4 linked regions of the Homo sapiens genome follow. The protein of the gene in region 2 binds, or shares a complex with, the protein of the main gene of each other region. Each region holds a gene or a part of one and is shown on either strand. Other genes may lie near its edges. The genes, in order: PPP4C, PPP4R4, PPP4R1 and PPP4R3B.

Region 1 (6,914 bases), on a different chromosome or scaffold from region 2:
GGAGGGGCTCAATCCCCACCCCCCCACACACACTGGTGCAGGCCACACCAGTCTGTTGTTCTGGGACCAGAGTATTTTTGTTAATAAAACTCAAAAGCCATCCATGCTCAGGAAACATTGGGCTCCTGTGTTTGGCCCTGGGCGGGGCTGGGTGAGCAAAGGCTTTGCTAGGAGACCCAGGCCCAGATCTAGACCTGTGTTTCCAGCTGCCTGACCTAGCACAAAATCCACTGGCCCTCTAGGCCCATCTCCTCTTCAGGAAAATGGAGAAATCAGAATCCTGTGATTCTGTGTGTGCCTGTGTGTGTATGCTGTTAATAAGATAAGGCTGCCCATGAGAACAGAGCCCTCTCCCTAGGGCTGGGGAAGCCAGCAGGCAGCGGCCCCTGGAGGCCCTGGGCAAGCTGACTGGCCTGAGCCTGGCCCTCTTGGCAGGTCGGGGCCCTGAGGCAGTCAAGGCCCTGACGTCCACCCCAGGTCCCAGGCCAGCAACCCTGTGCATTCCCAACCAAGTCTGGCACAAACCCAAAAACCATTTTTCTTCTTTTATTAGAATTTTTTCATTTTTTTTCTCAAAATTTTTATCTAAAAACAAACAGAAAAAAGAAGGAAAAAAAGAAAAAAAAATTATTGGAAACTTCATGGTTCAAGTGGGGAGAGAGGAGGAGGAACATGGAGCTAGGTCTCCAGGCCTCTCCAGAGAAGTCCTCACCCTCGAAGCACCCTCTTGGGGGACAGCAGAGCCAGGACAGCCCCCCCCACGCCCAGCCTCCGTCTGAGGAAGATGGCAGAGTCACAGTGGTGCGAGGGCCAGAAGGGTTGGAGGGGGCAGGGGCCGGGCGGGGTCACAGGAAGTAGTCGGCCACGGGCTTCTTGGAGGGGATGCCCCGTGTCTCTTGGGGAGCAGCCTCAAAGATGATGAAATCTTTCTGGAGATGCTCGTCCAGCTCCAAGATGGCTGCCACATTCCCACAGCTGGAAGGCGGGGCAGCAGGGTCAGGAGCAGCTCGGCTCAGATGCCCGCCCATCCCAGCCCGGCCCAGCCGGCTCACCGGTAGCAGTAGTTGGGTGCCGACCACACAGTGAGCACCGTCTCATTGAAGTGCCACTTGTAACCTTCCATCACCAGTTGGTGGGCACGGCAGATCATGTCAATGTCATTGGCTGCGTTGAACTGGGCCACCACGTCACTGCCAAATAGGTAGCCGGCTCCTCGGGGGCTCACGCCCCAGCCTGTGGTGTCTGATGCGGAAAGGGAGGGATGGAGAGGGATGTCCTCAGGCTTCTCTGGCTGCCAGCGCTGCCCCTTGAGGGTGAGCAGCCTGGCCCCTCCCCAAGTCCACCAGAGGCCCGTGGGACCAGAGCATGGGGCCTGAATATGGTCTGTGGGATGGCGGGGACCAGGACAGCAAATGTAGGGGCAGATAAGCTCCAGAGGAGAAAGAACGCCCAATGCCTGGGGCCCCCTCATAATCACAGTGATCATACAATCCCCGTCCAAACAGCACATAAGAGTGAAAGGGGCACTCCCAGAGACAGAAGGGCACCCTGTGTTGTCACAGGGAGGTCCGGAGTGACTGTGGAGCAGCGGCTGCATGTGTGTGTCTGCATGTGTGTGTCTGTATGTGTGTGGCTGTGATGGAGCAGAGGCCTCGTGTGCGTGTGTGTGGCTGTGATGGAGCAGAGGCTATGTGTATGTGTGTGTGTGTCTGCGCTGGAGCAGAGGCTGCCTGTGCGTGTGTGCCTGTGACAACAGGAACTCTGGCTGGTCCTCAGAAGACCTGACTTTAAATCTCAGCTCTGCTCTACACTAGTGGAAAACCCACAAAATGAGGGGTCTCAGGGGGCTACCATTCTGGGGTTCTGACCTCTGAAGAAGCTGCTGTCATGTTCTAAGGCCCCTTCACTTCAGGGAGCCATGACTTGGTTGTCCTCCACAGCCCTCTGGGCCATGCCCCAAGCCACTGTGTGCTCAAAGCACCTGCCATGCAGGCCTCCCTGCTCCTCCTCCAGGGTTCCAGCCATTTGGCAGGTGGAGGACGAGTGACAGTGAAGACCAGCCCTGCTCCCTCTCTTTCCCAACCCCTCCTGGCTGTCCCTGCCTGCCCCTGCCCACATGCCCTCACCTTCTGGGTCAGACCAGAGGAGGTCACACATGGGCCCATCATGAGGCACCTCTTGCTTTCGGTCGATTGTCCGAATCTGATCCAGGGTCTGGATGGAGGGGGAGAGGCCCCCGTGCACGCAGAAGATCTACAGGGGAGAGCAGGGAAAGAGGACGGGGCTGAGGCCTGAAGCCCCCCTCCTCTCCCTGTCCCATGGAGCCCTGGGCTGGCTTACCTTGCCATCGATGATGGCTGACAGGCTGAGGTAGTCAAAGATCTCAGTGCAGTAGCGCCACACAGTCACCGAGCCGTACTTGCGCAGGCACTCATCGTAGAAGCCATAGACCTGCGTGATCTGGCGACTCTCATGGTTGCCCCGGATCAGTGTGATGCGATCAGGATAGCGAACCTGGGGGTGGCCACCAAGCCAGGGCTGGCGCCTAGACGGTCTCTCCACACATCCCTCTCTGACCTCCTCGTGCCCGCCAGCCTGCCATCCTCACAACCACTGCCCAGCACACTCCTGGCACCTCTTGCCTGAATCGTGTGGCATCAGCCACCTCCCAGGCCCACACGACCCCTCCAGAGAATGTAAAGCTGACCCATTCCCTCAACTATGAACCTAATGGCTCTTCTTTCACCTACCAGACACAGACCGGGTCCCTAGCAAGGCACCCAGGCCCTTTGTCATCTGGCCCCACACTGCCTCTCCCACCAGTGGCATCAATGACCTGCCACATTCGCAACAGTGAGCCTCTGCCCCTCCCAGAATGCTGCCCCGCTGGCCTCAACCCCCATCAAGTCTCTGACCACCCCCAAAAGCAGAATCGGTCCATCACCAGTGACACAGCTCCAAGGTGGGGCTGGTCACGATAGGAGATGAGGGCGGAACGGACTAAGACAGGCCCGGCCCGAGGTCGCCCAGGTTGGGGGTGCAGAAGCCGGGGACTGCCACCTTAAGTGCCAGCAGCAGGAGGAACGTTTCGACGCTATAGAAGCCACGGTCCACAAAGTCCCCCATGAAGAGGTAGTTGGTCTCAGGGACGTCGCCACCTACCTGTGGGGAAGTAGAAAGTTTTGCCCTGTCGTAAACAGTCCCCTACCCCCTACCTGTTTCTGTCCAGCGGAGGCCCTTCTTCCACAACCACCCATCTAACTTGGGGCCCCTTGCCCCCACTCCACGCCCCAAATTAAGGCTCCCACCCTCAATTACAGGGGTCTTCCAGTCATCCCCCCGTTACATTTCACAGTGTTGGCCACACTCTTACTCTGAACAGCTCTTTGAGGTCATAGAATTGTCCATGGATGTCGCCGCACACCTGGGGAACAGGAAGAGTGGGGTTGGAACTCAAGCAGTGGGAGTTGCCAGGGACTACCCTCCAAACACCCGCTGCTTTAGTGAGCTTTATCACTCTTGGCTGCACTTCTACTTCCTAGGACCAAAATTCTCCTCTCCCACCCCAAGTCAGTCTGGTCTGGAACCATACCCACTGTCCTATGCTGAGTACCAACTATTCTGTAGGCAAGAGCTAGAACTAAGTCCTTCCAGGTAGATGTCCCGGCCCCTTCCTCTCTCTACTCCCCACAAAGTACCCAGAATCAAGTTACTAACACAGAGCCCTGGAGATATGTGAGCAGAATCACTCGCCAAATAGGAGTCCTTCTGCCCTGGCCAAGAATCTCCACTAACAAATCCAAAGTCCCTTCCCATAACCCCTTTCTTTTCTTTCCTTTCTTTTTTTTTTTTTTAGACGGAGTCTCACTCTGTCGCCTAGCCTGGAGTGCGGTGGCGCGATCTCGGCTCACTGCAAGCTCCGCCTCCTGGGTTCACGTCATTCTCCTGCCTCAGCCTCCCGAGTAGCTGGGACTACAGGTGTCCACCACCACACCTGGCTAATTTTTTTGTATTTTTAGTAGAGATGGGGTTTCACCATGTTAGCCAGGATGGTCTCGATCTCCTGACCTCATGATCCACCTGCCTCGGCCTCCCAAAGTGCTGGGATTACAGGCGTGAGCCGCCGCGCCCGGCCTGTTTTTTTTGTTTTTTTTTGTTTTTTTTTGAGACGGAGTCTCCCTCTGTCACCCAGGCTGGAGTGCAGTGGCCTGATCTCAGCTCACTGCAATCTCCAACTCTGGGGTTCAAGCGATTCTCCTGCCTCAGCCTCCCAAGTAGCTGGGATTACAGGCACGTGCCACCACGCGTGGCTAATTTTTGTATTTTTAGTAGAAACGGTTTCACCATGTTGGCCAGGCTGGTCTCGAACTCCTAACCTCAAGTGATGTGCCCACCTTGCCCTCCCAAAATGCTGGGATCACAGGTGTGAGCCAACGTGCACAGCAACCCCCACTTCTTTTAGCAGTGCTCCGTTGAAGGTGAGGGAAAGGACAGATAAAAGAGCTTAGGGTTGGGCTTATAGAGCCCCCAAGATGAAGAGGAAACTTCATGTGCCTGAAAGACCAGGCCTGGCTCTGCAGGGACAGCAGGTACTCACTGTGACTGGCGAGTCCACCCTCTGCACGTTGCTCTCCTCTACCAAGATCTCTCTGGAGACAGGAGAAGACCAGGGTCACCACAGCCAGGCCAGCCCAGCCCAATTCCTGACCTTTTTTGGGGGGAGGGGAGGATATGAGGCAGTCCTGGAAGCTCCAGGGGGCAGGAGTGAAGCGTACAGTCTCCCCAAAACAGGCTGACCACGGCCCTTCAGCATGCAACACCCTTCCGTGGCCCCCTGCTGCCAAAAGGACAAAGTCCAACCTCTTATCCCAGCGTTCCAGGCCTTCTGAGCAGGCTGGGACTTTTCCAGCCCTGACTCCCCCTGCCGCTCCCTCTTCCGCATCCAGGACTCACTCCTGGGAGGCGGGTCTCCCCATCCTCTCCACAGCAGAGCTTAAGTCACCCTTGGCCAATCACAGAGCCCTTCTCCCAGGCTATCCAGACACAAGGGTAGGTGCCCAGGGCAGGCCCACAGTGGATGCGCCTTCAAAGTGATGCGCTCTTGGCCAGGTGCGGTGGCTCATGCCTGTAATCCCAGCACTTTGGGATGCCAGGGTGGGCAGATCACGAGGTCAGGAGTTTGAGACCAGCCTGACTAACATGGTGAAACCCTGTCTCTACTAAATATACAAAAATTAGCCAGGCGTGGTGGCGCGTGCCTGTAATCCCAGCTACTTGGGAGGCTGAGGCAGGAGAATCGCTTGAACCTGGGAGGTGGGGGCTGCAGTGAGCTAAGATCGCGCCACTGCACTCCAGCCTGGGCGACAGAGCAAGACTTCATCTCAAAAAAAAAAAAAAAAAAGTGAGGTGCTCTTGCCATGTGTTCAGTATTTCTTTATGACTATGAGGACTTAAATATTTTTTATTTCTCCTTGCAGTGCAGTCTACTTCTACTTGAGTGAGCAGGAGATGAAATCACTTTGCCAGGTAAGACACCCAATTTTTTTTTTTTTTTTTTTTTTTTGAGACAGAGTCTGGCTCCATTGCCCAGTCTGGAGTGCAGTGGCGCCATCTTTGCTCACTGCAAACCTCTGCTTCCTGGGTCAAGTGATTCTCCTGCCTCAACCTCCCGAGTAGCTGGGATTAGAAGCATGTACCACCACGCCCAGCTAATTTTTGTATTTTTAGTAGAGTCGAGATTTCACTATGTTGCCCAGGCTGGTCTCGAACTCCTGACCTCAAGTGATCTACCCACCTTTGCCTCCCAAAGTGCTGGGATTACAGATGTGAGCCACTGCACCCAGCCTATAGATACCCAATTTAAGCAACACTGTATTTCCAAATTTTGCCTGGTAATAGCAGCAGTGAACATTCGAGCTCATACTGTGTGCCACAAATGTTATTAAGAGCTTGGCAGGCAGGTACTATGATGATTCCCGGTACACAGATGAAGAAATTGAAGCAGGGAAGGAGGCTGGCTTGGTGCCAGTGACACAGGTGGGATATGAACCAGGGAAGCCTGGCTCTGGGGTCTGACTCTTTATCAAGATATTCTGATGTGGGAGGCCCAACTCGCCTGGCCCCCCTCTTTCTGCCAATCTCTTCCCTTAGAATGAGTTTCCTGAGCTCAGTGGACAGGAGGATTCACTTATGCCCCTTGCTCTGTATGGCAGAGGCAGCACGAAGGAGGTCTGCCCTGGCTTTCTGGGAACAGAAGGCAGCACTGGCGGTGGTCCAAGAGGCCACATCAGTACCCGGACTCTCCCACCTGCACTGCTTCTTGTGCTGAACATCCTTCCCCATCAACTGCTCATAGTGACCTTTCCAACAGACTGGGGAGGTTCTCTTCAGCCTCACGTAACAGTAAAGAAACCGAAGCTAGGCCGGGCGCGGTGGCTCATGCCTGTAATCCCAGCACTTTGGGAAGCCAAGGCAGGCAGATCATGAGGTCAAGAGATTGAGACCATCCTGGCCAACATGGTGAAACCCCGTCTCTAGTAAATATACAAAAATTAGCTGGGCATGGTGGCGCGTGCCTGTAATCCCAGCTACTTGGGAGGCTGAGGTAGGAGAATCACTTGAACCTAGGAGGTGGAGGTTGCAGTGAGCCAAGATCAGGCCACTGGCACTCCAGCCTGGGCAACAACAGCAAAACTCTGTCTCAAAAAAAAAAAAAAAGAAAAAAAGAAACCAAAGCTTACAGAAAAGCGGGAGGGTCAAGGTCACCAAGCTGGAGAGTGGCTAAATTGGAACCCAGAAGCCCAATTTCCTGAGAATTTATGCCAGCCCCTTCCACAGACCCTGAGTGAAAACCTGAAGCCCAGGGAGGTCACATGCAGGGCCCGTGCTCTCTGCAAAGCCCCCCTCAGTGCCAG
Region 2 (7,366 bases):
TTTGAAGTAAATAGAAATGATGAGAGCATGCTACCACAGATACCCCAAAGAGGGGGGAAAATAACATCAACATAAAGTCTAAGATGCAGAAACATTTCTAAATGATACAATTATCAGAGGGAATGGTCTACATGGTAAATATGCTGATATTCTGACTAAAGTTACAACAGAAACTCATGATGCCACTTTTAGAAGGCTAAAAAAGTAATTAAGAAAATTGAAGACCTGGAGAGGGATTTTTTTTTTTTACAGAATCATTCAATGAGTAACATGGGACTGGAACATGATCTGTAAACAAGAAAGGAGAACGAGAAACTTGCCAGTACCTGAAACTGGCGCTGAACTAAGGAAACAAGGGTGACAAATATCCTAGGAGGTAAATTACATCAGTTTTCAAAACCTGATTCTGGAAAAAAAAAGAGTGACTAATTTGCCAAAAGGGAAAAATATGTTGTGTAAGCTAATGAACAATTTTAAATAAACGCAAAATGCTGTAGGAAATTTGTTTCTAAAGGATTTTAATCAATTAATTAAAACATCATTCATGTTCACTGTATTAGTTTTTAAGATGCTCAATCTACAAGACAATGTTTTAAATAGTTCAGAAAAATCTTGTAAATATTTGCAATAACCATTTGCCTTAAGCAATTCTGTAGAGCCTGTGAGATGGTTTGAAATTGAAATGACAGTAGGCTCGACCAAATTTCTAAAACCCCTCAGACAAAATCATAAAGCTTGCACGGCAAAAGTAATACAAACAGGATATCCTGAACAGCAAAATGAACTACCATATTTGTGGATTTTTTTCCGTATAGTAGATCCCGTATAATGTTCCTACTCTACAATGAACTTAAAACTAATCACTGTATACTCAAGTCTCATGTAAACTTACTGAATCTTACGCGAGAAAAACCAAAGCCAGAAAAGAAAAAAAGGATGAGGTTCAACTCCAACCATCTGCTCTTGCTCCTCCAAGCAACATTCTATAAATTAGGTATTTTATTTAAATTCTCAAAGTCATAAGTCCATAGCCAAATCTAATTTATAATATAGTTAAGTACTATGCACACAAAAGTACTCTGTTCAAGTGGCTAAGTAAATCTGAACATAACGCGAACATACATTTTAGAAAGCATTCATCTCTGCTGCACAGGGAAAAAAGAAGAGCAATTTCACAGAAAGACTAGGAAATACCTGAGCAGATAAACAGCCCTTTCAATATCACTGAGGTCTTCATCGACTGTCAATCTTTCTATTTCTTCCGGTGTCTGTCAAGGGTAAAATACACATTTATGCACCACAAATATTGGTTCAGTCTTGCCCCCCAACCTCCCAGTGACCCTCTATGAGGATAAACGAATGAAAAAGTTTCACAATTAAGCATTAACAATGAAAACTAATCAAGGAGCTGAGGATACCAGGCGACATCAATCACGGAGGTCTCTAATTGGGTGGTTTGGGGAGTTTGGGGAGGGGGCTGTATTTTTCTGTTTTTATCCTTCTAGCTCCTGGACTGCAGCTTGAAAATCACATCGTGGCTTCAGAACCTTGGCTGAAATCCATTTCATACGCATGTTATAAAACGAATACACACACTTTTTATCTCTAATACTTCAAGGCTATTTCTCCAGCATTTTCCACCCCAAGAAATGCTAAAAGGGAGATGGATGAAGACTGCAGCCGAGTAGGCATGAAAAGGACAAGATCTGGAGTGGGGGAGGGAAGGAAATAAACTCCGGGGCTGGAAAAAAACCAGAGATTTGAGATATTGCGGCAGGTGGGAGTGAGAGGCGCTAAGGCAGCTAATTAAGCAATGGCCAGGGGAAAGGGGTCCGGTCCGTAAACTAGGTTTGCTGGCGCTAAAGGTTGGAGCCGCCGGGAGGAAGATGACTCTGCGGGGTGGGAGAGCCAGTAGGGGTGGGGGGAGCAAGCTGAAGCTTGACCCCCTCAAGGGGATTGGGGAGCTGGGTCCCAGCTACAGTCCTGGAGGGGATGGGAGGAAAGGATGAGCGGTGACTCAGGATGGCGGCAAAGGGTCGCGAGGGCTTGTAGACAGGGACCAGGACGACACTGAGAAAGAGTGCTGGCTGGGAAGCGAGGGGAGGCCGGGCTACCTCGAGGGCAGAAGGACCCGAGCTTGATCTGACTTGGGCTGGGGGTGAGGGGACGGGACGCGGGGTGGTGTCTCCGGGAGAGGTGGGGGGAGGAGTTGGGAATGTGTGGACCGATGGGTGGGCCTGGGGCCAGAACCCGGGCGGCGTCAGCGGACCAGAGGTTGGGGAGCCCAGGAGAGGACCGGGGAGAAGTGGGCTGCGGCCTCGAGGGGCAGCTCCTTTGGGGGGGGGGGGCGGAAGGAAGGGGGTCCGCGACGGAGGACGCTGGGGCTGCCCCGAGGGCTGGAGCTCGGCCGTTCCTGGGGGTGGGCCGGGGGGATTCGGACGCCTCAGGAGGGGCAAGGGCCGCGGGGCTGGCGCCGGTCCGGGGCTGGGGCAGGGACCCGTCCCTTGGGGATGGGGGTCCAGACTAGAGAGGACCCGGTCCGCTCTGAGGAAGGGTCCGAGAGGGAACTGGCTTAGGGCGACACGGCAAGAGGGGTGGAGGAGGAGGGGCCGGCCCGACTGAGAGGGTCCCGGCGGCCCGGAGGAGGGGAGGGTGGTGGCGTGGGGCAGAGATCAGCGCGGGACCGCGCGGGGCAGGCGGCCGGACGCCGTGAGGGCAGGTCCTCTCCCCGGGGCGCACCTTGAGGCTCCGGCGGACCGGCCTCTCGATGATGGTGAGCTCCTGCAGGTCCTCCATGTAACCGAACAGGCTGTTCTGACTGAAATCCATCGCGGCGGCGGGCGGCGGCGGATGCATGGACCGCCGGGCACTCTCGCCGCCCGGGCCGGAGCGGCCCCGGGATGCCGGACGCCCTCAGCCCCGCGGCCGCCCACCAGCAGGACTTTCTCCGGCTCTTGGCCGCTGGAGCCGAGCGTGAGGCTGCCAGGCGGCGGGAGCAAGAGCACGGCCCGGCGAGGGGGCGGGGCGGGCCCGGCGAGGAGGCGGGGCGAGGCTCGCGGGCGGGCTGCGGGGGCGGGGCCAGGGGCGGGGGCCCGCCACCTTGCCCGCCTCGGCCCCGCCCCTTCCCGGGCGCCGCGCGCAAGAGGCCGGACGCAACTGCCGCGCAACGACCCGGCGGCCCCGCCACCCTTCTGCGCCCGCTCCTCGCCGTTCTCCTAAACCCCCGTCCGCCCCCAACCAAGTGTGCCCCACCCCACAGCGCGTGCGCAGAGCCTTTTGCCTCCCGCAGCCGGCTGAGGGCGGGCGCTGGGGGCGGGCGCTGGGGAGGGGGGCTGGGGGGCGGGGGCTGGGGGGCGGGGAGGCTGAGCCAATGAGAGCGGAAGCAGAGGAGAGGGAGCTGGCTGGGCTGCGGCTGTACCTGCTGACTTAACTGTCCAGTTATTCCCAGGACCGCCCACCCCAGCTGGCGGGCCGTGAACCCAGAGACCCCCCCCAGCACAACTCCAGCCCTGAGGGGAGCGCTGAGTGCCCAAAATAAGCAGTTAGGACGCGGGGTGCCCGGCTGACGGGGGAGGGGGCTGTGGGAATACAGCCCTGGAGGGGCTGGCTTTTGGTCAAGGGCAGCATTCGGAAAAGGCCTCCCAGAGAAGAGTCACTTAAACTGAATCTTAGCGACCGATAAGGCTTTCCCAAGAGAAATAATAAAAGCAAGCCGGTCCGGGGTTGAAGCCTGGGTGTGTTTGGTTGTGTTTGAAAAGTGCCGTCGAAGTACAGCTCGGGGCTCGGGCACCGAGGGCGTGGCGAGGTGGGTGGAAGGAAGAGGACCTAGGTCCTTGATGAAGAAAAGCCCTGCTCTGGACAGCCACGCTGAGTCCCTTGCACTTGGTTCTGTTAAGAATGGGACGAGATGGAAGGGGGATTGGGGCGATTTTTTTGGACCTTGGGGACAAGTTCGTACTGTTCAGCTCGTCAGTCAGCAAGGCCCTTTTCTTTTTTGTTTTTATTTTTTACTCGTTCCTTCTCCACACCCATTCTTCTACCCGCCATATGCACCCTCTCCTCTATTAAGGTATGTCCCAGTTCATGCACCGTATACAGCCTCAAAAGATACATGGTTTGTGTCTGTTTTTAACATATATGAACGGCATTGTGATGAGAACTCATTCTGTTCCTTGTTTTTCTCTCAGTGTCTTAGAGATCTATCCATGTGACACTATACAACAAGAGTTCATTAATAATGACTAATAATAATATTTGATTTGTGTGTCTATCATATTCTACTTATCAATTCCTCAAATAACGGCTAGTTAGGTCGCCAGCAGTTCCTTACTACCACAGACCATGCTGGAATGGATGTTAGACGTGTCCCTTACAGAACATAAGAAATTGAGTCGCTGGGTCATGAAGTCCACAGTGTTTGGTTTCACTCTGTCATGTTGGCCTCCAGATGGCTTTGCCATTCACACCCACCAATGGCACATGAAGGTAGGAAGGTACCCGTTTCCCATTTTATATGCTAACATTTGGTATTATCCGATGTCCTAATTTATGTCAATCTGAAATCAGTAAAGTAGTATCACATTGTAATTTCGATTTGTATTTTTTTGATTGGTGGTGTTAACCATTTTTCCATATACTTAAGAACCATCGAGATTGTTTTCCTTCTGTGAATTATCTATTTACATCCTTTACCTATTTTCTGCTGGATTTTATTATTTTTTCTGAATGAATTGAAGCAGTTGAGTTTCTTATATGTTCTAAATATTAATCTTTTGTCAGTTTTAGAAAAACACTGCAAATATTTCTCTCAATCTTTCATGCATCCTGTTTGCTTGGTCTTTGCTATGCTGCAATGGAGGAGAAATCCTTAATTTTCATTTAGCCTAATGCATCAAATTTTAGCCTTGTGCAGTGTGGTCTTGGGGTCTTGTTTAAGAATCTTTTCCCACCTGTTAGTCGCAAAATATTCTCCTACATTTTCCCCTAGTTGGCTTCATACTTTTACCTGTCACAGGTCTTAATCCACCTGGGGTTCACCTTGCATACAGTTTGAGCAGGAATACAGTATTATTAACTCTATTTAGTGAGCCAGTTTTCCCAGCAGCACCCACCAAACAATCCATCTTTTCCCCTCAGATGCATGATGGCGTCTGTATCGTATGCCAAGTCCCTAGAGACACACACGTCTGTCTCTGAGCTCTTGTGGCTATTCTATTGATCTAGATCTGTTCCTATGCTAGTGCTGTGCTGATTTTATTGCTGTGGCTTAATTATACATCCTAAGATCTGGTAGAGTGAATCTCCCACTCTTGGCTCTTTTGTTCTTCAATTTTGCCTTTGAAATTCAAAGCAAAATGGTCAATAATGATGCCCACAGCTAAAATTCAGGTTTTCTAATCCCTGCTTTACTAAGGAAAAGTGAAGGGAAGTAGAAGAGGACAGAAACATAGGATGAGGATGGAAAAGAGGCAAACACATGAGGAGGTGGTTTTCTTAAGCAGATATCTTACAGCCTCCCCTTTCTGTCAATTTCTGAAATTCTCTGCCTTTTGATTTGTAAATGATACAAAATATTACCTGTCAACTTTACCCTGTTCCAGCTAAGAAGTATTATCTCACATTTGGATTTTGTAACAGTATCTTCTAAAACTGGAGGGCGTTCTTAATGAACAATTGATTGAATATACAGATACGGCTTTAATGTTGGCCGTTCCAGGGCAGGAGGGTGATGAAGGGAAAATGTTCAATTTGATGACTGGAATTTGTAACTGCTCTAATTACCACTCTGTGGTGGAAGTAGCCTGCCCAGCCTGGCTGCCAGGAAACCTGAGTCCCTGTCCTGGCTCTGCCAGTGACATGTGGCAGAATGACTCTTGGATCTCTGTTTTCCTTATCTGAACTGCTTTCATGCATGTTGTCTCAACGTGCCCTCAAATCATCCCTGTGGAATGCAGAAAAGCTGCATCACTATTCTAATTTTACAAATAATGAAATTGAGGCTCAGAGAATTTATGTGACTTAGTCATGAACACACAGCTAACTGAAACTAGATTTATCCACTTTGTTTATTCATTTAAAAATAGCATGGTAGGCCGGGCACAGTGTCTCACGCCTGTAATCTCAACACTTTAGGAGGCTGAGGCAAGTGGATTGCTTGAGCTCAGGAGTTCGAGACCAGCCTGGGCAACATGGTGAAACCCTGTCTCTACAAAAAATACAAAAATTAGCCGAGCGTGGTAGCACACACCTGTAGTCACAGCTACTAGGGAGGCTGAGGTGGGAGGATTGCTTGAGCCCAGGGGCTCAAGACCAGCCCTGGCAATATAGCGTCTCTACAAAAAATAACAAAATTAGCTAGGTATGGTGGTGCACACCTGTAGTCACAGCTACTTGGGAGGCTGAGGCAGGAGGATCACTGGAGCCCAGGAGGTCAAGATTGCATCACTACACTCTTGCCTGAGCGACAGAATGAGACCCTGTCAAAAAATAAAATTAAAAAAAAAAATAGCATGGTGCTAACTAAGCACATGGACTTCGAAGCTCAGGTACTTGGGGTTGAGTCAAACTCTGCTGCTCCCTATCTTCAGCAAAGTATTTCACCTCTCTGCTCCTCACTTCACTCATCGCTAAGCTAGGAATAATAGTAGCACTTAGTACAAAGTGTTGTGAAAATTAAATGAGATAATATGCATACAATGCTTAGAAACATTCTTGGCACAAGTGTTTGTTGTTACTATTATCATTGTCACCAGACCAGTGTCCCTCTGAACCCAGGTTCAGAACAGAGTCAAGAAGTTGTGCTGAATCAATTGATTATAATGGGAAGCAAAATAATGTTTCCCCAAAGACGTCCACATCCTAATTCCCTGAACATATGGGCATGTTACCTTACATGGCCTAAAGGATTTTGATGCAACTAATTTAAGGATATTGAAGTAGGGAGATTATCCTCGTTTACCTCCGTGGGCTCGGTGTAATCACAAGGGACCTTCTACGTGAAAAAGGGAAGCAGAAGTTCAGTGTCAGAGTGATGCCATGCAAGGATGCAACCAGCCACTTTTTTTTTTTTTGAGCTAGAATCTCACTCCACCCTTGACCTTCCAGGTTCAAGTGATCCTCCTGCCTCAGCCTCCTGAGTAACTAGGACTACAGCTGTGTGCCAGCTAATTTTTGTTGTTGTCGTTGTTGGAACGAGATCTCACCATGTTGCCCAGGGTGATCTGGAACTCCTAGACTCAAGGACAACCTCAGCCTCCCAAAGTGCTGGGATTACAGGCATGAGCTACCACACCTGGCTGACTGCTGGCTTTCAATATGAAATGGGGCCATAAGCCAGCACCCTATAGAACTTGGAAAAAAAAAAAAA
Region 3 (7,031 bases), on a different chromosome or scaffold from region 2:
TTCCATTTCTGTCCTCTCTAACCTCATCTCAGCTTAAATTTACCTATTACTAACAACACCCAGGAGGCATTTTCTATTTTCTAATTAAGAGTTCTTCCTTTTAATTCCCTGCCGTCTTGGGTGCCCTTGCTTTTACTCCACCAATAATTGCAAAGTATTTTTCCTTTTTTTCATATTCTCCTACCTTCCCTTCTCCTCTCCCTCCCCAACATATATAAATTCCCTAAAGATTGTCTTGCTAAACTTTTCATTATCTAAAAAACAGAGTCCAATGCTTCTCATGGAGGCACATTCATTAATATTTGTTAATGAAAATGTAGTCCATAGGGATAATTGATAAGTCAAGAGTTTACTATACTTTATCCTTCTCTAAGATATTCACAAGCACATTAGCATATTAATACCTTGAGAAGTATCACACCAAAGAGAACTTTTTAATTCGTACAAACTTTTATCAAAATTGATCAAAACACCCTTCTATTCTCTACATAATCTCTAATAATGTAACGTAAAACATAAAAAAGCTCATAGTCTATCCTTCCCTTCAGTTTTTCCCTAGATACTGCTCAGGCCACAATAAATCGGCCACATTTTGTTTCCCATCTTTACATTTTAGAAAATGAAAGACAATGAGATACACCACAGAATGAGTTACCTTATAAAGATTTGGGGCTTTAAAATTATATTTTAACAAATAAATATACCAACAAATGAATAGGGAGGAAGATCAGGCTCTTCTATAAAGCAGAATGTCAGCTAGTAAATGCAATTAATTCAGGCAAGAATCATCAACACATTCTAACACTAAATGGGTAAATGTTTGGAAACAGGGTATTTCCCCATTGTCAAACTATTTCCTTACTAATTACAATAGGAAAAACAGAATCTTTACAGTGGAGCAATTTGATAGACATCACCTCCACACTACCAGTAATGGACACTGCTATCAGGTGCTCCTTAATCTGAAGCACTGAGAAAACTACACTATCACTTATGTAGCAGTCCTGTCAAAAAAAAAAAAAAAAAAAAAAAAAAAAAGGAAAGAATAACCTGAATCAAATCATGAGGAAACAGATAAAACCAAATGGACTCTTCAAAAATGTCAATTTCATGAATGCTAAAGGCTGAGAAATTGTTCCAAACTAGTAAGTTTGTAAGTAATGTCCTTACAGCAAAAGACAGTTGCCATAAGGACATTACTGGGGATATTTCAATATGTACTACATACTATATAACAGGATTGTAGCAATGTTAAATTTCCCAAATTTCATTACTATGATTGTAAAAGTGCCCTTGTTCTTAGGAGACACAGGCTAAAGGTCCCAATGACCACAACCTATTTTCAAAGGTACACCAAAAAATTACATTACATTGTGTGTGTGTACATAACTGTATAGAGAAGTAACGAGCAAACTGGCAAAATGTTAACAGCTTAATTCAGGTGAAGAGTTGGGAATTCATTACAATATCTGTGCAGCTTTTGTATAGGTCTGAAAGTTTTCAAAATAACAAGTTTAATTAAAAATAATTTCATTATTTGACCCCAAATTAGGTTTACGGTCTTATTTAGCTTGGTGTGAAACATCAAGATTCATTCAATACTTATTCTACATTAAGCACTGATGAGATGTATTGCTGAACACTGTGTGATGAGTCAAGAATAAAAATGTTACAGACCTTGGATTTTATAGCACAGTGAAGGGGTTGGCCAACTACAGCCAGCGAGCCAAACTGGCCCACCTTCTGTTTTCGTAAATAAAATTTTATTGGATGACACTTACTTTCATTCATTTCTGTATTGTCATGGCTGCTTTTACCTTACAACAGCAGATCTGAGTAGCTGCAACAAAGATCATATGGTCCACAAAACCTAAACTATTTAATATTTGGCCTTTTACAGGGACCATACAACATAATCTTTATAGTCTCCAGCAACAGGTATGTCAAACTTTAATTTTGTACTTTGCAATAATATAAATAATGTTTATCAGAAACCCTTCCTTCAAATATCAATACTAAAAGCTTACTAAATCCTTAGAAATGCAAAATTGTCCTATAGCACAACTGAATTTAAGGCAAGAATAATTTGCTGAAGTATACTATATGTATATTCATATATGTATTTATATTTATATATATACACCATATGTATAATGTATTTCTATTTATATAATACAGTAGTGGCATGTTTATCTAGTTTCAAGTTAGTTACCAAGATTATGTATACAAACAGTATTTAACAGAAAGGTAGTATAACAAAGCACTTGCTCTGACATACACTTGTGGATCTCCCAAATATTATAGATATTTGTTCCCTTCAGTGAGTAAAAATTTTCTTTGCACTCTTAACGCAATTACTTTGGTAGTAACCTTTTTTCCCACAGGTAATCCAAATACAAAATTTGAACTAACTCAGGTCCAAATTGCCACCAATCTTAAATAAATGAAGTATTGAATAAATGAGTTATTTCTATCAAAAATGAATTTCATAGATTTAAATATAAAAGTGATCTACATCAGGCTGGGTGCAGTGGCTCACACCTGTAATTCCAGCACTTTGGGAGGCCAAGACAGGTGGATTGCTTGAGCTCAGGAGCTCAAGGCCAGCCTAGACAACATGGCAAAACCCCATCTCTACCAAAAATACAAAAAAATTAGCCAGGCGTGGTGGTGCAGGCCTGTGGTCCCAGCTACTTGGTAAGCTGAGGTGGGAGGATTACTTGAGTCCGGGAAGCAGACGTTGCAGTGAGCCAAGATAGTGCCATTACACTCCAGCCTGGGCAACAGAGCCAGACCCTGTCTCAAAAAAAAAAAAACAAAAACAGAAACATGGATAAATGAAAGTCAAAACCGAGTAGTAGAGACATGATGGTCCATCTGCCTTTGTATATGTCTTAAGTATCTGTAATATATAACGAACTCTCAAAATTTAATAAGAAAATGTCCCAATGAAAAGATGAGCAAAAGATGTGAAAAGGCACTTCACCAAAGGAGATAAGTTAGATGGCAAATGAGCACATAAAAAGAGTAACATAATTAGCCATTAATGCAAATTCAAGCCACAAATTAATACTATTATACATTTAATAAGAGTGGCTAAAATTAAGACTGCTCACACTAAGTGTTGACAATGATGATGAGGACCTGGAACTCTCATACACTTTTGGTGGGAATGGAAAATGATATAACCACTTTGGAAAACAGTTTGGCAGTTTTTCTTTCTTTCTTTTTTTTTTTTTTTTTTTGGATGGAGTTTCGCTCGTTGCCCAGGCTGGAGTGCAATGATGCAATCTCGGCTCACTGCAACCTCTGCCTCCCAGGTTCAAGTGATTCTCCTGCCTCAGCCTCCCGAGTAGCTAGGATTACAGGCATGCACCACCACGCCCAGCTAATTCTTTGTATTTTTAATAGAGACGGGGTTTCACCATGTTGGCCAGGCTGGTCTTGAACTCCTGATCTCGGGTGATCCACCCGCCTCGTTCTCCCAAAGTGCTGGGATTACAGGCATAAGCCACCGCACCGGGCTGGCAGTTTCTTAAAAAGTTAAACAGCCATTCTACTTCTAGATGTATACCCAAGAGAAAGAACATATATATTCACACAGACTTGTGTGTGAATGTTCATAGCAGCTTTATTTGTAACAGCAAAAAAACTGCAGATGATCCAAAAATCCATCAACATTTTAAAGGTAGAAAGCTGAGAAAAAGTTAACTTGCTCAGATTATAAAGAGAATAAATGGCAGGGCCAGAATATTAACTCAGGTCTAAAGGCTTACCAAGCCCAGTGTTCTTTCCCCTACACAAAACTATACTGAGGTATCTTCCAGAATGACTGCATGATAGATGCTCAAATACCAACCACATTCATATCAATAAGGCCAGAAAGTAAGTTAAGTTTGCTCCTTAGTCTAGGGAGATAAGAAGCTAAGATGACTTAAAAGTTAGGAGAGTTAAGAAATGAATGTGGAGGAAGCAGCATTGATGATGTCACCAGCTCAAAGATCTGTGCTAAAAGCAGAGCAAGTTCCAGACCCTCTTATAGAAATTAGAGGGAATACCTCCTCAGCCAAAATTCCATAGGTGTGCCATCCAGACTTCTGCCCAAAACACTAAGTTAGGTTTATTCTCAGCTCCAATTTAAAAACAACAACACAACTCTAATTCAAATTTAGGAACTTTCAAATTCTTTTACTCCAAAATATAAAAAAAAGATGTAATACAAACATAGGAGCAAGGTAACAATAGTTTAATAAACATACATTCATTGTTTTGAGGAGACTGAGAGAAAAGGACCAGAAATAATAAACCAGAGATCAAACAAATGTGGCAGCAGACTTCTGAACTTTACCTCCTGAGGTCTATTTATCTTTCACAGGCAGGAACAAACAAAAAGTATGCATTTAGGTGTCTTGGTTTTTTATTTTTTGGAGGGGGGAGGGCAGTGGATCGTGTAGCTACAGGCCCAAGCATATTTACAAAGGGGTTTTTCTCTCTGTCTCTCTCTCTCTCTCTTTCAATTTTATGTGGGAAGTTGTTAGCAGAGGTATCATTAATTGATCCAACACACATGTGGGTACCACTGAAACCATTTTAAAAGCACTCTTTTCTAAGATATCAATGATATTATCTCTAAATAAAGATCTCTCCATCCAGGCTTGTTGGCAGCAGTCAAAACAGGCTACCAGGTCTCACGACTCACCCTCCCAAATCCCTATTTAACAATACTCCTAAATATGATTCACGTTCAAGGGCACCTTCCAAAGGTTTCTGAATGATTCCCTGGCCACTACCAGATACAGCCCCAATATTTTGCTCCTCACCTCCCACCGGAAGCAAGGACTCTAAGCTTATCAGAACTGGTTTTGAAACATGGTAGGAAGGCCTGAAGATTCTGCACAGAGTGCGGTCTAGGCGGTTACCCTCAGTTAGTTCTGGACCCATCCTTCACTCTACTTCAACACCGCCCTTAAACCCGAAAAACAGCATAATGTAAAAGGATTCCAAAACTTAAATATGAAAAAAGTCTGTTGTATGGCATACTCAATAACATAGCTTCAAAAACTTTTCAACGTCATACTTAGTTACAGCTGAGATAAAAGTTAACGACTAAATAAGCTGTCTTATACCCAAGCTCCATCCTCTCTATCATTCTCCAGGTGTAAACTAAACCACATGCAGCATCCCAGATTAATTTTCAAGGGTACTTTAAGAACGAGTTCAAAGAAATTGCCTGTACAAGTTTGGGTTGATCAATATTTTAAACTGGGCCATTTAAGAAAATATTCAAAATATGATATTTAGAATCAGAAGGCCTAGCTTAAAATTCCGTCTAAACTTAGGAGTTTTGTTTCTTTAGTCCCTTTGGGCATTAGTCAACTTACTTATTAGTATTAGAATACCACAGCCTACACATCACAGGACTGCTGTGAAGAATAACCTGTGTATGAAAGGCACTGTAAACTAAGCGTTACATAGCCATTCTTTAAAAATAACATTCTTCAACATATTACTTTGATAAAAGCTTAAGTTCTAATGAAACTCCTTCAATGAAATTATTTTTACAAGCATTGGCTCATCAAATCTTAACCGTATCTTAGTCTCATTTCATTTTAGGAATCTACCAACTTAAATGTGAATCAAAATTGCATCTTTGGAAACTAAAACAGAAATCTGAAATAATTTTTTCTAAACATCTACAATTTTGTATTGTCTCCCATTATTTAAGGAACATAATTAAATATAAAAAGTTAAAAAGGGTTTACCCAACTCTGAAATCTGCTGAGATAACCTATGTTCAAATGGAGTCACTGGTTTGCTTTCAATTTGAAATTCAAAGTATTTCATGATACAGTACTGAAAGTTTCACTTTTAAACTTAAATACATATGGTTTTTATTGCATTATTCTCCTAAACTTTTTTTTTTTGAGACGGAGTCTTGCTCTGTCGCCAGGCTGGAGTGCAGTAGCACAATCTTGGCTCACTGCAACCTCTACCTCCTGGGTTCAAGCAACTCCCCTGCCTCAGCCTCCTGAGCAGCTGCGACTACAGGTGCACGCCACCACGCCCAGTTAATTTTTTTTTGTATTTCAGTAGACATTTCACCATGTTGGCCAGGATGGTCTCGATCTCCTGACCTCGTGATCCGCCCACCTCGGCCTCCCAAAGTGCTGGGATTACAGGCATGAGCCACTGCACCCAGCCTATTCTCCTAAATTTAAGAGTACCTGATAATGATTTCATTTACTTACCTTTATAAGTTACTTGATAAAAGTTTAAGTTCTAATGAAACTCCTTCAATGAAATTATGTGTACACACACACACACACACACACACACACAAATACCATCCATTTTTCCCTCATTAGGATTTTTTTTCCTCCAAAGGTTATCAGTCAAGTCAGTCTTTGACCAACCTTTTCCCCGACTCTGTGCCTCTGTACAGAGACGGGATTAAAACAAATCAAATCGAAAGACCTGAGACTCTTAGCAATGTCTGGCAATGCCCCTCTTTCAAGTCCTAGACTCCAGCTAGGTCCTTTCCTAGATCATCTGCACAACAGAACTTACTGTCTCTTCCCTCATAGTCCAGGTTCTGCATTTAGGAAGGTCAACCAAGATTCTAGAGCTTGACCAGAAAACAATTTCTTCCCATCCCAAGGGCCAACTTACACCTAGCTTGGCTGAAGTAGTAGGACTTGTTTACAACTACTCTGGAGGTTGGGCTCCATACTCTGGAGTTTTACCATAGACAGAGAAACTCAGGCTCACGAGATAACAACCGTGTTATAAGGGCAGCCCAAGCTCCGTTCCTCTACCTTTGGGTCCTCTACCTTCTCCAGCTTCTCCAGGATGTGACAGCTGTCTCAGTCCTTTACCAACCATCTTGCTCTCTAAGGAGGCACCATGGCCCAGTGTTCCCCCTCATTCTTTCTCCCTTCACAAGAGATGGGAAGTGGTCCTTCAACTGGCCATATGTCCAAAAGTCCTTTGTTCCTGAATATTCTGGGTAAAGGTATCACCTGTAAAAACTT
Region 4 (7,492 bases), on a different chromosome or scaffold from region 2:
CACATCAACTTCAGAATAGTGGTTACCTATGTAGGGGATGGAGAATGTAAACAACGGGATGGATACAAACAAGCTTTAACTCTATCCATAATGTTCAATATTACAAAAATATTTGAAACAAATATGGCGTAACATTAACATTGTTAAATCTGGTGGTGTTACAGTAGACACCGATTATTCTCTGTACTTTTCAATTTTAATATATTTCATAATAAAAACAAAAACATTCACAGAATAAAAAAGATTGAATCACTGCTACCATTTTCAGATTAATCAGGCGTGCTAAAATACAATACACATTTTCTTTCCCAAATAAGACAATATTAACAGAAGATGTTACATACTTGGTAATGTACATTTTTATAAAGTATCCATTGATTACTATATTAAAAATACACAACAATTAAAGAGCAGGATTTAATGCTTCTACTTCAAAACCTCTACCTTTACTTGAGTCAAAGGATTTAATTTCACACCACAAACAGGCTTTCCTTGCTTTAAGAGTATCCCTTTGAATTTTGTTCTATGTCATTTCCTTTAAACGTGACTCAGAATAAAAGGTTTCATGTACAAGGTATAGAAGAGACTTGGCTAACTACAGTTAAATAATACTAATAAATACATCTTAGAATAAACCGACAGTGGCTCAATCCAAAAATGATAATTATCACCAGTACAAAAACTTTTTTTCAGTCTGAAACTTTTAACCTGCAAGAGAAATACACATGATCTTTGTTTACCAAACATGTTTTTTTCTTGTCAGGAAAGCTTTCCCACCTTTGTCAGATTAATACTTCCTTGATCACAGATGAAGTCTTTCAAATTAAAGATAAACAACTACTTGCCTGTTGTTTCTGATATGCAGTATTTGGATTTATCTTTGATTCCAAGAGTAGTGATCCTGAAAGATAAAAAATAATACATCATAAGTCTCAAATGATAAAACCCTGAATAAAAATTAGAATACACATTAAAGCCGGGCGCAGTGGCTCACGTCTGTAATCCTAGCACTTTGGGAGGCGGGCAGATCACGAGGTCAAGAGATCCAGACCATTCCAGCCAACATGGTGAAACCGTCTCTACTAAAAATACAAAAATTAGCTGGGCGTGGTGGCGCATGCCTGTAGTCCCAGGTACACGGGAGGGTGGGGCAGGAGAATCGCTTGAGAGAGAGGGAGAGGAGGCAGAGGTTGCAGTAGCCCAGATCGCGCCATTGAACTCCAGCCTGGCAACAGAGCAAGACTCTGTCTCCAAAAAAAAAAAAAAAAAAAAAAAAATACACATTTAAACCCCGCCCCCCGCCCCCGCAAACTTTTCAAGTCTTTTTACCGAGTTGGACATCTTAATAAAATGTATTCGAATTCACATTTTCTCTCCAAATCTAGGCTTCACATTTAATCTAAAATATTTCACCCTATTCCCATACACCCTTAAAGGAAAAATTAATCTAAAACCAACAATCAAACCAAGGAATGAGGAGACTAGATGACTATTAAAATTTTATTGAAATAAAAATTTTAAGGTCTAAATGACCACTTCAAGCCATTCGTTTTAACAAAAGTTGTTTTATTGCATTCCCAGTTTAACAAATAATGCAAATTACAAAACAAAAACATCATGACAGGGATTAAATACTTAGTATAGAAATTACAGTGCTGCATTTATCCTTTCCTCATTAAGAACAAAAGAACACCTTCTGTAGAAGTGATGACTATTTAAAATAAAAGGGAACAAGCAAGAATACAAAATATGTCAAGACTAAACCTAAGATTATTTTTCTAACTGCCTATATCAGTTGTTCAAATCAAGTCCAGATTATACTATAAAAGGCATTTTAATTACGGCTCTACATTTTGTAATTTAAAATACTTCACATGACTACAATAAACCAAAGAACACAGCAGTTTACAACCTGCTTTGGTGTCCCAACTTGCTTAGATTGTAAGGCATTCACTTTCTCATAGCGCCTTCTACAAAGGCAGCCCGAAGAAATGCAGACTACAGATGTATGTGCTTGTGTGTCCATGTATCGTGGCAACAGTCAGCAATACAGCCAGGAAAACGTGCCTTTCGGTTTTCCCCAGCACCTGTCGACTGTGGCACCTGGGGCCCGTTGGTACAATTTTTTTTTTTTAAAAACACTCGGAAAGAAAAGTTTCCCTAAACCGTTTGTACTAGACGTATAATGGATAAGTAAATAAAGGGGGAGGAAGGTGTCAGCTCCTAGGGCGACATCAGTACCTAGTCTCTCACTACTTCCTCCCTTCTCTCTCACACTCTCCCCTCTTCAAAAGAGGAGGGACTGGAAAGGAAGGAGTCCAATCCTTAAGAGAGATGGGAGAAGGACAGAGAGTCTCGGTCTCCGAGGATAAGTCCAGTCAAAAGTACAGTACTTTGTTTTTGCCGTACACAAGAGCCAGTTCAGAACCAACGCGCTGTCCCGAAGGAGTAGCAACGGTAACGGGCCCAGGGCCCTAAACCCAAGCTGTGCCCCAACCAGAGGCACTATCCCCTATTCTACAGTTCCGATAACCTTACCGTCGGACTCTGCCCGAACCAGCAGCGACATCCCCTTGAGCTCCTCCACGTAAGTGGAGGAGACGTGCCCGGTGCCTCGGTCGTCCCATTGCCGGTCTTCGTTCAGGGTATAGACCTTCACTCGCCGCCGCGTATCCGACATGGTGGCTGCTGTCTCCACCGCTCTAGCCGCCGCCTCCTCGCTTACCTCGTCCGCGCTCCTCACTCTTAGGAGACGGTAAAGGCAGTAGTGGCGGTGGCGGCGGCGGCGGCTTCGGAGAGGCCCGAATTCACCATGGCTCCAAAGGTTCAGCCGCGAGAAGGGGTGACAAGAGCCACTGAGGCCTCTCCGCCCGGAGGCCCCGTTACCTCTCACTTCACCCGCGCATACACCCACTCTCCCGTCTCTTTGCCCCCCAGGGCTCGCTTGCTCTCCCGCCGCCGCGGTAACTACTACAGATCCGCCATCTTGTAACCCGACTCTCTCTGCCTTTCTCTTCCTCCTCCAGCAGGCTCGCACGGGCTGTCCTAGCAGGGGCTACGGCGGCCGACAAGTCCCATGAGCAGCACCTCCGCTTCTGCACGCGCTTCCCAGGCCGGAATGCTCGGCGCTCTCGCGAGGAGGGGTACCGACTGGGGCGGGAGTACTTCGGCGAGACTTCCTCCTCTTTCGGCCCGACTTCCTCCTCTTTCGGCCCCGCCTCTTGGCGCGGGGTCGCAATTGGGCGGGAGGTTCTCGCGATCTCCCCGTCCACGCCTGCGCCGCGAGAGGCCGCTAGGTGGAAGGGGACTTCGGTTCCGCACGTCGTCATGTTGTTGGATGGCACCAGTATGTGACGTTCCTAGGAACTTAGCTCTGAGGAAAAAACAAAGCAAACCGGGGAAGTACGTAGCCTTGAACCGGAGTAACCAGGGACAGAAAGGAAGGAAAAGGGTTTCATACCTTCACGGAACGACGCTCACTTCGTCCGCCTGAGGAGGAAAAATAAGTTTAAACCTTTCTGTGAAAAAGAACGTGGAGCCCTTTCTGCCGAATGGAAACCCGCTAAACCCCGTTATGGAGTCTGCTACAATTAAGCATCTAACCAGGAATTGTCTATGGACACAACTCTCCAGGCAATTCATGCAGAAAGTGTGTTGACGATTTCCTGTTTCTTGCAGAGCGCTTCACCGTTAAGGCTCTTAGTAGCTGGCGATTGTAAAGCACATTTTCCGCTTCATGAAAATACAGTGCTCTTCTTGTGTTTGTAACCTTGGAAAGTAAGTCTGCTATGATAAGTTTAGGGAAGTGGCGGGGAGCTACTTTCCTAACATATCTGTGATTGTTTTGATACTTCTCAGTTTCTCGCGGGCATTTCCTGCGTTCTCTATAGGGCTCTCTTGCACTGAATAAGGAAAGGAGGAATTCTCTCTGCATTGAGGCTATTATCGCACATTGTGCGGTGGATATAGTCACGCGCTGGGTCGTAGTAGCGTGTCGTTTATTTCAGTCCAGCTCACTCTTGGTAGAATCCCTTTATTCGTTTTGTTGTTTTTGATAGTCTCTCTCTGCTTCCCAGGCTAGAGTGCAATGGCGCTATCTCGACTCACTGTAGCCTCCGCCTTGAGGGCTCAAGCGATCCTCTCACCTCAGCCTCCCGAGTAGCTGGGACCGTAGACGCCTGCTCCCCATCCCCGCTATATTCGTTCTTTAATACAGTCTCTCAGCTTGTTCAGCTGCCACTTCTGTGCAGCTCATTAGCCTGATCGGTGAAAACTAGGCGAGACGCGCACACTGACCCTGCAGTGCATCTTGGGAGTTGTAGTCATAACTAATCAATGGTCTTGTTAAAACGTGCTTATGTTTTGACCAGATCGCTTAAGTGTGGACACCCTTCAGCAGTACACTACAACGTGGGTCAGTGTACAGAACACATGCTGATAGAAATAATTTCAAAATCTGGATTCATAGTTTTTTTTTTTAATCTAGAGACCTCAGAAAATGTACTTGAAGAAAATCATCATAATATAATACATAACAATAGAGCCAATTAATTGATGTGATGAAAGTGGACAAAATGTATTTTGACCTCAGAGAAAATAACATTTCTGTCTTGGAAGAGTCAGAGAATGCTTCACACAATTTTTGAGCCTGATGTTAGACTCTCCAGCCTTCTGTCCAAGCCTCACCCTTTGGTTACTCCCCAGGAAGACTGAACTTGGGAAGAGGATTGTGCAGACCCTGGAGTCAGGCTTGGCGTTTGGGATAGGGAATACTAGAGTGCCCACAGCATGGTCTGGAAAAGGGAAAGTGGGCTGCAGGTGGCTACAGTCCCATGATTCCATGGATTTCAGACCCCTCCAAAGCACAGGGCTCAGTGCTTATCCAAGTCTGAGGGCCCCCCATAACCACATCTTCCCCAGCAGATGTTCTTTGCTTCAGGCAGTCATCAAAGTTCCACTTCAAAGAGTTGCTAACCAAATAAGCCCACAATCTTCCTTTTTTGTTGTTTTGAATAAGTAATGCCTTTACACATATGAAATTAAAAAGAGAGGCCGGGCATGGTGGCTCACGCCTGTAATCCCAGCACTTTGGGAGGGCGAGGTGGGCAGATTGCCCGAGGTCAGGAGATCCAGACCAGCCAGGCCAACGTGGTGAAACCCTGTCTCTGCTAAAAATACAAAAATCAGCTGGGCGTGGTGGTGGGGGCCTGTAATCCCAGCTACTTGGGAGGCCGAGGTAGGAGAATCGCTTCAACCTGGGAGGCAGAGGTTGCAGTGAGCCAAGATTGCACCACTGCACTCCAGCCTGGGGGACAGTGTGACAGACTGTCTCAAAAAAAAAAAAAAAAAAAAAGGCAAAGATATATAGTGAAAACTAAGTCTTCTTTTAGTCTTTGTCTCCTGCCACTCATAGAATTTTCCTCTTGGAATCACCTCTATTCCATTTTCCTGTGTATGTTGCCAGAGCAGGGCTGGCTTCATGGTGGTGACCTGTACAGATAGGCACTTGGTTTAATGTTTTGCTGTCACTAACTTGAAATTCAGGAAAGTTTCTGGACAAGGGCCCTGCGGTTTTATTTTGCACTGGGCCCACAAAGTATGTATCTAGTCCTATTCCAGAGATATTCTATGCATATACAGGTAATTATATGTAGATATGTATGTAGTGGTCCAGTAGTGGTCCAGGGCCTGTTAGGAACTGGGCGGCACAGCAGAAGGTGAGTGGCAGGGGAGCCAGCATTTCGGCCTGAGCTCTGCCCCCTGTCAGATGAGCAGGGGCATTACATTCTGGTAGGAGTGAGAACCCTATTGTAAACTGCACATGCAAGGGATCTAACCTGTGCACTCCTTATGAGAATCCAACTCCCCCTTTCCATGGAAAAATTGTCTTCCACAAAACCAGTCCCTGGTGTCAAAAAGGTTGGGGACCTCTGTAGTAGGCTACCATCTAGGTTTGTTTAGGTACACTCTATGATGTTCACACAACAAAAAATCACCTGATGATGCATTTTTCAGAAAGCATCCCCATTGTTAAGGGACACATGACTGTAATGGAATACTATTCTTTTCCTTCCTTTTTATTTTTTGTGGAGACAGGGTCTCTACATGTTGGTGCCCAGGCTGGTCTCACACTCCTGAGCTTAAGGGATCTGCCTGCTTTGACCTCCCAAAGTGCTGGGATTACAAGTGTGAGCCACCATATCTGAACCCCTGTCCCCCACTTTTTTTTTCTTTCTTTTTTTCCATACACAGTCCAGGCTGGAGTGCAGAGGTGTCATCTCGGCTCACTGCAACCTCCGTCTCCCGGATTCTAACGATTCTCCTGCCTCATCCTCCTGAGTAGCTGGGATTATAGGTGTCCGCCACCACGCCCAGCTAATTTTTGTATTTTTAGTAGAGATGGGGTTTCACCATGTTGGTGAGGCTGGTCTCAAACTCTTGACCTCATGTGATCCACCTGCCTCAGCCTCCCAAAATACTGGGATTACAGGGGTGAGCCACCGTGCCCAGGACAGCCTTTTTTGGGTCAGTGTGTATATAGAGCTAACTCATTCTACTTAATGGCTACATAGTATCCCACTGTGATAGCCGCAAAAGGCAGACAAATCCTAGGCAGACAGGGGCAGGTCCCTGGTGAAACCCTTCAAGCTGAGGACAGTTTAAAGGCTAGCCACAAGACCAGGATAAATCCACAGACCAGATTGAGAACCTCTCTTCCCATTTGGCGTGCTTTCTTCTGATTGATCCCCACCCTTCACCTATTTTACACATATCCTTTCCTAATTGTTTTTTTACACTGTTGTACCTACCTTTGAGTGGTGCTGTTGTTTTAGCCTTTTTTGCATACTCACAAACCAATCAGCATGCACGCCTTCATTCTGAGCCCATAAAAGCTGTGGACTCAGCCGCACTGAGAGAGAGACCACCTGACTTTGAGTGAGGGACCACCCTTGCATCCTCTCTCTCCTGAGAGCTGTTTCATAGTTCAAATAAAACTCTTCTCCACCCTCCTCACCCTTTGATTGTCAGCGTAACCTCATTCTTGGACGCTGAAGAAAAATTCGGGACCCACCAAACGCAGATACAAAGAAGGCTGTACACACTGTGGCCCTTTGCCCTCTGCTGGTGGAGGGCAACCGTCCCACACAACGCGATGGGAAGCAGCAGTGGGGCAGAGCCAGTCCTGAAGCCACGGGCCTGAGTGGGGCAATGGGACTGATAGAGCTGTTAACATGCCACTGTCCGTTGGCCTGCAGACGGCAGAACTAAAAGAGTGCTTAGCATACTGTAACACCTCTGGGGCTTCAGGGTCATGAGCACCCCTGTTTGGGTGCCACCACATTTCCCTCAATGTGACACACCTGGTCCAGCCACAAGCCCCGCACAGAGCCCACTCCTGCCCTGTACTCGTTCACTCACACACCCCCTCCTGCCAGGGGCTGAGGCCATGGTGGCTGCAGGATTCGTGCCTGAGCACAAGCCAGACACATCC

Evidence for each region.
Region 1: PPP4R4 (region 2) and PPP4C share a complex: the UniProt entries of both Homo sapiens proteins name them as parts of the PP4 complex.
Region 3: PPP4R4 (region 2) and PPP4R1 share a complex: the UniProt entries of both Homo sapiens proteins name them as parts of the PP4 complex.
Region 4: PPP4R4 (region 2) and PPP4R3B share a complex: the UniProt entries of both Homo sapiens proteins name them as parts of the PP4 complex.

What each region holds. Positions count from the first base shown.
Region 1 is NC_000016.10:30,078,994-30,085,907, reverse strand, and holds the end of PPP4C (serine/threonine-protein phosphatase 4 catalytic subunit), read right to left. Parts: intron 4,709-6,914; exon of another isoform or gene 4,650-4,708; coding exon 4,598-4,649; intron 3,425-4,597; coding exon 3,374-3,424; intron 3,163-3,373; coding exon 3,061-3,162; intron 2,515-3,060; coding exon 2,341-2,514; intron 2,254-2,340; coding exon 2,127-2,253; intron 1,243-2,126; coding exon 1,053-1,242; intron 976-1,052; coding exon 846-975; 3' UTR 532-845; downstream 1-531. UniProt on the Homo sapiens protein: Protein phosphatase that is involved in many processes such as microtubule organization at centrosomes, maturation of spliceosomal snRNPs, apoptosis, DNA repair, tumor necrosis factor (TNF)-alpha signaling, activation of c-Jun N-terminal kinase MAPK8, regulation of histone acetylation, DNA damage checkpoint signaling, NF-kappa-B activation and cell migration.
Region 2 is NC_000014.9:94,169,956-94,177,321, reverse strand, and holds the start of PPP4R4 (serine/threonine-protein phosphatase 4 regulatory subunit 4), read right to left. Parts: upstream 3,001-7,366; 5' UTR 2,857-3,000; coding exon 2,740-2,856; intron 2,270-2,739; exon of another isoform or gene 2,115-2,269; intron 1,862-2,114; exon of another isoform or gene 1,595-1,861; intron 1,269-1,594; coding exon 1,195-1,268; intron 1-1,194. UniProt on the Homo sapiens protein: Putative regulatory subunit of serine/threonine-protein phosphatase 4.
Region 3 is NC_000018.10:9,604,558-9,611,588, forward strand, and holds part of PPP4R1 (serine/threonine-protein phosphatase 4 regulatory subunit 1), read right to left. Parts: intron 1-7,031. UniProt on the Homo sapiens protein: Regulatory subunit of serine/threonine-protein phosphatase 4. May play a role in regulation of cell division in renal glomeruli. The PPP4C-PPP4R1 PP4 complex may play a role in dephosphorylation and regulation of HDAC3.
Region 4 is NC_000002.12:55,614,606-55,622,097, forward strand, and holds the start of PPP4R3B (serine/threonine-protein phosphatase 4 regulatory subunit 3B), read right to left. Parts: upstream 3,018-7,492; 5' UTR 2,681-3,017; coding exon 2,539-2,680; intron 902-2,538; coding exon 846-901; intron 1-845. UniProt on the Homo sapiens protein: Regulatory subunit of serine/threonine-protein phosphatase 4 (PP4). May regulate the activity of PPP4C at centrosomal microtubule organizing centers.